Regions from separate parts of the Homo sapiens genome. Here region 2 is linked to region 1. Evidence: fine-mapped QTL for protein levels in blood plasma. A gene starts in region 1. The other region holds a variant in brackets. All regions are shown on one strand. Distances are between the middles of the regions.

Region 1 (2,919 bases):
ACTGCAAAATTATAATTGAAACAGTGAAAGAGATTGGACCTAACCAACTCTATCTTATTTCTAACTTCTAAGCTGTCCTTACTCATTCTTAGGCATAGGCTGAACTAACTTTGAGGAGGAACATAGTTTATAGTTTAGAACAAAGACAATAACAGCCCTTTCCCAAAACAAACCTTCTTTCCTGGGGACTGGACCGCCTTTGCAGGACTAACAAATTAGCCAAAAGATTAGAAATTATGGTTTAGGAGTCATACAGCTGGAGGCTGTATGATTCTGACCCTCCCCAAATTGCTCCTGGGAATAACATCACTATTGTAAAGCCTAAGACCAGTGCTTCAGATATGTTGCAGACCCTGCACTGGATGGATCAGCAGGCACCACTCAGCTCGATAAACTGGCTCATCTGATCCCATGGCCCCCACCCAGGAACTGACTTAATGCAAGACAGCTTTGACTCCCTATGATTTCACCTCTGACCCAAACAACCAGGTCTCCCGACTTACTGGCTCTCCTCCACCCACCAAATTGTCCTTAAAAACTTTGATCCCCAATGCTTGCGGAGACTGATTTGTGTAATAATAAAACTCCAGTCCTCTGCACAGCCGGCTCTACGTGAATTTCCCTTTATGAATTGCAATTCCCCTGTCTTGATAAATCAGCTGTGTCTTGACAGTGGGCAAGGTAAACCCATTGGGTGGTTACAAACTGTGTACCCAAGCAATAAAAGTAACAATTTGGGAAGTATTTGAGACCCACCAACCAAAATTTCTTTAACAATTTTGGTCTATTCAGTCATTCATCCATTCATGTAACCACTATTATTGGGTGTCAAGAACTGATACTTACTTAGAACGTTAAGAGCATTATTCATCTTGACATACCAAATCATCCGAGTTACTGAAAATTGGTTTACTAGGTTCCTTACAAAGAGGTTGCTTGGATTTATAAAATATGAGGCAGTTGACCCGAGACAAGGACGTAGAAAGTGGTTCATGTACCCAATTTTTATTTTTCACTTTGAACCCAGAACATTCACGACTCCAGGCCAGAAATTCAAGACTCTGCAGCTAGTTCTGACTCCAGTCCTAGGGTAACAAGCCCACCAAGAATCCAGGGCAGATGTCCTGAAAACCCTTCTTGCGGGGTCAGGAGGGCAGCAGAATTTTGGGACCAAATCTCAACAACTGGTTTTGGTTTCCTCACTCACCAAGCCACAAGCCTGCAGAGTGAGAAGAGGTAAGGAAAGGATGAATGGGCAATGGAGCCAGCCCAGGACCGGGAGCTGGTCCTCTCTAACAGCGACCCCGCCCGCTTTAGCTGAGCGACCCGGGGCAGGTTACATAGTGTCTCTAACTTAAGCCACGTGTTTCTCGAGGAAATGCTGAGAGGATCTAATGGGAAAACGTGGGTACACGTCTTAGCTAAGACCCTCGCCCACGATAAGCCCTTAATAAGTAGTTATTTTTCAGTGGTGGTGATTACCATCGTCATTATTGTTTTGTATTTGTAATCATCACTGCCACGACCATCACCGACCTCTTTTACGCCTCCACCGGGATCCCCACCTCCCAGCCTGGCAGTTCCAGGCTCTGGTGACTCATTCACTTCCTGGAAGTCCTCTAGGCAACACTTTCCTCTCCCGAGTGACGACTCCTCAGAAGGCAGGAGATCCCCCCCGGAAACCTTTCTCTCTCCGTCTCTCCCTCTAACTCAAATCTCTCATTCCCGAGTCCAAACTAAGAGAGACTCGCGCCCCAGGAGTCAGCCAGCGGCGCGGGCGCCTTCCCCGCACGCCTCTGCCGTCTGGAGGACGCAGGCGGGAGCGCCCCGGACCGGGTTCACGGTCTCGCACTCCTGCCGCCGGCGCCCCGCGGTCCCGCCCTAGCAGGCTCCTTCCCGGGCCCCTCCCCGCTCCCTCCTCTTTCTCGCTGCTCAGTCACATCTTTCTCTTCCTTCCACCCCGAGGGACCATGTCGAGGCTCAGCTGGGGATACCGCGAGCACAACGGTGAGCGCCTTTTCCTGATCCAAGGGGGGGTTTGTGCGGGGGACGAGAGGACTAGCGCGACGCCCCGGCGCTCGCTGACCACACACTGGGCTCGCACATTGAGAAACTTTTTCGGTTCCTCTTTAAACTAAGCAGCACTCCTGGGAGCCCAGTGCGAGAAGCGGAGAGCAGTCTTGTCAGGGTAGACGGGTTGTTGGTGGTGGATGTGAGCGTTGGTGTGTGTTATCTCTGTCAGGATTCCCCAAACTCCCAAGTGTTCATACGTGTGAGTTCACCTTCATCTGAAAAGCCAAGGACTTTGCCTAGTAACAGCCACGTATCAATTACAGGCTTGGAGATCAGAAGTCTGATGACACACTTCAGTGAAATAAGGACAAGTTCGCTTTCAGTCTTTTAAGCTCACTATTCACTTAGGAGAAACAAATCATAGAAAATCTTTAAAAATATATTTAGGAAATCTTAACTTGCATTGTGACACTGAAGATTAAGTTGGCTTCGTGGCAAACAAAATACTGCATGTTTCCTAATAGTTGTTACTGTAAATATTCCCACAGCAATTTGCAGTTGGCTGACTACTACTGGGGACTTTAGTAAGGGTTCAGGTTCTCGCTGGGAAATTAAGTTACATTGTGGGTTACTTCTCCACTCTTCTTCTCCACGCTCATCCTTGCAGGGTGAGCAAAGGATTACTGAAATTATAATTCATTGATAGAAATGTATTAATAGGATAAATAATAATGACATACACTTTTCTTCTTGTATATCACACATTATCAAAAGTAAAACATTTTTTCTTGTTCCTACGTTAAACTGAACTGATTGTTTAAATAATAATTATTTGAAATAATCGCAGTGACACCAAAAAGCCTTATAGTGAATAACTGTCAAAATTAAGGCTTAGTTTAGCCATTC
Region 2 (2,919 bases), 640 kb after region 1:
TGAGTGGTTGAACACAGTCTCTCTGTTTTTTTTTTTTTTTTTGGTCATTTAGTTTGCAGAGGTGGCTTAGGGTAAGGCTTATATTTGAGAAATGGTAGTAAATTGGAGAAATGAAATAGGCCAATTACATTTTGAGGCAGATCTGGCTTTATACCAAAATATTAAAGACTTCTATGAGATGCTGCCCTTCATACACTTAAATCCATGGCTGTTACCAGAATCCAAATGCCAAGTCTGGCAGAATAAGGAAGGGAATTTAAACTATTCATCCATTATATCAAAGTGAGCCTGTTGCCTCTTCTTACCTCATGCCCAGAAGTCCTATATAAAATCTCTCTTTTTATATACTGTGAAAAGGCATTATTATTATACTTATTGTTAATATTATTAAAAGGTGATTTTAATATTAAATATTAATTACATTAGTTAATGTGTTATAGTATTTATGAACTAACGATCTAATTAATTTATTAAATTTGATTAGTTTGATATTAATATTAAATATGAAAACGTAGCTCAGAAAGGATATGTTTTAAAGGAAACTAATTTCAAAATCCAGTGAGAATCTGTTGACCTTTTTTATAAACATTCACGTTTGAGTAAAATCTTTCCTGCCTCTTTTCCATTGAATGGCCTGAGTGGATGTTTAGCAGCAGGAATAAAGGAAAGAATTATGAGCTACAAATATCACTATCTGCTCTTGTGACAGTACAAACAACAAGAATAATCTGTCCTGTGTGTTTTATTCCCATTTAAAAGAAAACAATTAGCTTCTATATTCTGCTGGAGCTCTGACAGTCTCATGAATGAACCTTTGTCCTTCCCTGGCTATTGTTTGGTTTGTACATATGCATCCTGGAGCTTTGTAACCAAATATGGAGGGTGTAGTGATCATGAAAATTAACAATAGATGTAAAGACTAGAATCTGACAACACTGACAAAGAACAAAAGACAACATATTATCTATTGTAATTTCTAGATGGGGAAAACAAGACAAAATTGTAGCTTATTAGGATCTGGTCCTCATTGAACTTGGGATTTAAAGTAAAACAAAAACAAACTGTTTGTAAATTATTGTTTGATTTCCTCCTTTATCAGACAAAGAGTTTTAACTTTGGAAGAAAGGCTATGCTGATGACACAGTAAAAATTATAGGTGATTGATCGCCAGTTTGGCAATCCCCAAATCTACTTGTATACTTTTCTGCTCCTTATCACCCATCTCTTAAACTTCCATTGGGTGTTAAATGGCCTTTTTAAGAGTAACCCCAATGAGACACGGGAACCTATGTCTCCATGCCCCAGATAACCCAAGGGACTAGCTGGAGATTTGGAGAGATTTACTGGAAATATCAGCCCCAAACCTATGTAGTGCTTTTCAACTCCAAAGAGAGATTTAAAGCCACATATGGAAGCCTCAAGGGAGAGCATGACTTTTGAAGAGC[A/T]GAGACTGGCCTCATGAAAGTTTAGAAATGGCCCCTTTAATTCTTTGGCACCTAGACAAGTGAATCAAACAAGGGTTCCCAATCGTCCCTTCAGTTCCCTCTACCTCTCACCACATTGGCCTCCTCCTCTCCACTCTCACCACTACTGTTAAGATTCTTGTGATCTCGTCCAAGAATTATTTTCATATCCCTACTTACTGTGTGACTCTGGGTGATACAGGAATTACTATTAAACAGTTTCCTTCTTTTCACAATGGAGTTAAATTTAGAATCTACCTCAAAGGAGTGATGCCTAGATTAAATTATATAAAAATGCTAAATCTAGCACATAATCAATAAATGTTTGGTAACACAATAGAAATCAATACTTCTAAGGCATAGTTTCCACATCCTTGATTTCATAAAAAGAATGCAAGTTTCAATGTTTTAGATTACCATAAAAGACAGTGATTCGTTTGTTGCTGACACAAACAACATCTATTTCCTCCCAAACAAAAGTTGGATCATGCTGGAGTAGCACAGAAGCACAAGAGAAGCACATGATCCAGTAATTGTGTGGTAAGGAAGATTTTGAGTAGTGACTTCTGGTCATTTGAAGAGCTCTAATCACAGGCTTTAGATGTTCACAGAACAATCATCAAGAGGCCATTTACTGAAAAGGACATCTGTCCTGGAAAATAGAAACTTCATTTATAATATTGTTTCTACTAATGAGGATTATGTCAAGACTGATAAGAGTTTTTATATCTGTTTGCAGAGTTCAAGATTTCAACATTTTAAGATAATCTGAAAAAAATTGGAATGTGCCCCCAGCTGCGTGAGTAACTAAAGATAACAGTAACCAAGTCTCATTGGATGACCCAGTTCAGCTAAAAGCTTCTCTTACAGATGATGCTATATTCTTGAGAGGAGCTTAGAGTGACTGTGTGGTTCACAAACTGTGCAAATCAAAATGTAAATTCTTAGCTTATCTAATAATTGATTTATTGTGTAAGGTACAATAAATGGTTTAACCACTCTGAAATTTATTTTCAAAATAAAATGAACTCTAGATGTATTCCTAACAGATGCAGAGAAACTCACACTAGGATGCCTTGAGGTTTTCTGAGATGTTTATTTATCCTTTGTTTCAATAGTGAGAACTAATTAGAATAAAATAAAATTAATGAGAGCTAATTAGAATAAAGATAAGATTGATTATTTCTACTTCCAGTTAAAACTAAAGATGCAGAATCAATTTTATGGAAAAAAAGGTTGCCAGGTTTTACTAAATTCAAGGCTGTTTTTTTCCCTCTATTTGTTTAGGATAAACATAGGCTTCTTCCTGCATGTCAATACAATACTACATTTGGCAAGTGTCTCCTGTTTCCAGATGATCCCGGCAGTTCATTGTTCGGGATATTGATTTTAATTAGCACAAGTGGATCAGCAGCTCTCACTTCAGTTGATCTGAAAATCAACATCTCTAGATGCT

Alleles and levels. Alleles are on the strand shown, and positions count from the first base shown. The strength of an association depends on the size of the effect and on how common the allele is.
In carriers of allele T in region 2, the plasma level of the protein whose gene starts at base 1,600 in region 1 tends to be lower than with A alone (moderate association).

Evidence for each region. A credible set is the group of variants that fine-mapping cannot tell apart. PIP is the chance, under the fine-mapping model, that this variant and not a neighbour inherited with it causes the effect. The UK Biobank Pharma Proteomics Project read protein levels with antibody pairs (Olink). The fine-mapping took linkage between variants from a reference panel, not from the people measured, so its PIPs are less certain.
Region 2: its variant is the best candidate, but not a certain one, in a credible set for the plasma level of the CA13 protein (UK Biobank, PIP 0.71).

The regions. Positions count from the first base shown.
Region 1 is chr8:85,243,859-85,246,777 of GRCh38, forward strand. CA13 (carbonic anhydrase 13) reads left to right here and starts at 1,600. Exons shown (of 7, transcript NM_198584.3): 1 at 1,600-2,007. The coding sequence starts at 1,971. RefSeq lists a silencer at 1,855-1,934 and an enhancer at 2,295-2,404.
Region 2 is chr8:85,883,733-85,886,651 of GRCh38, forward strand. LOC124901971 (a long non-coding RNA gene) reads left to right here and starts at 2,161. Exons shown (of 2, transcript XR_007060987.1): 1 at 2,161-2,262. The variant A/T (reference allele first, on the strand shown) is at 1,446.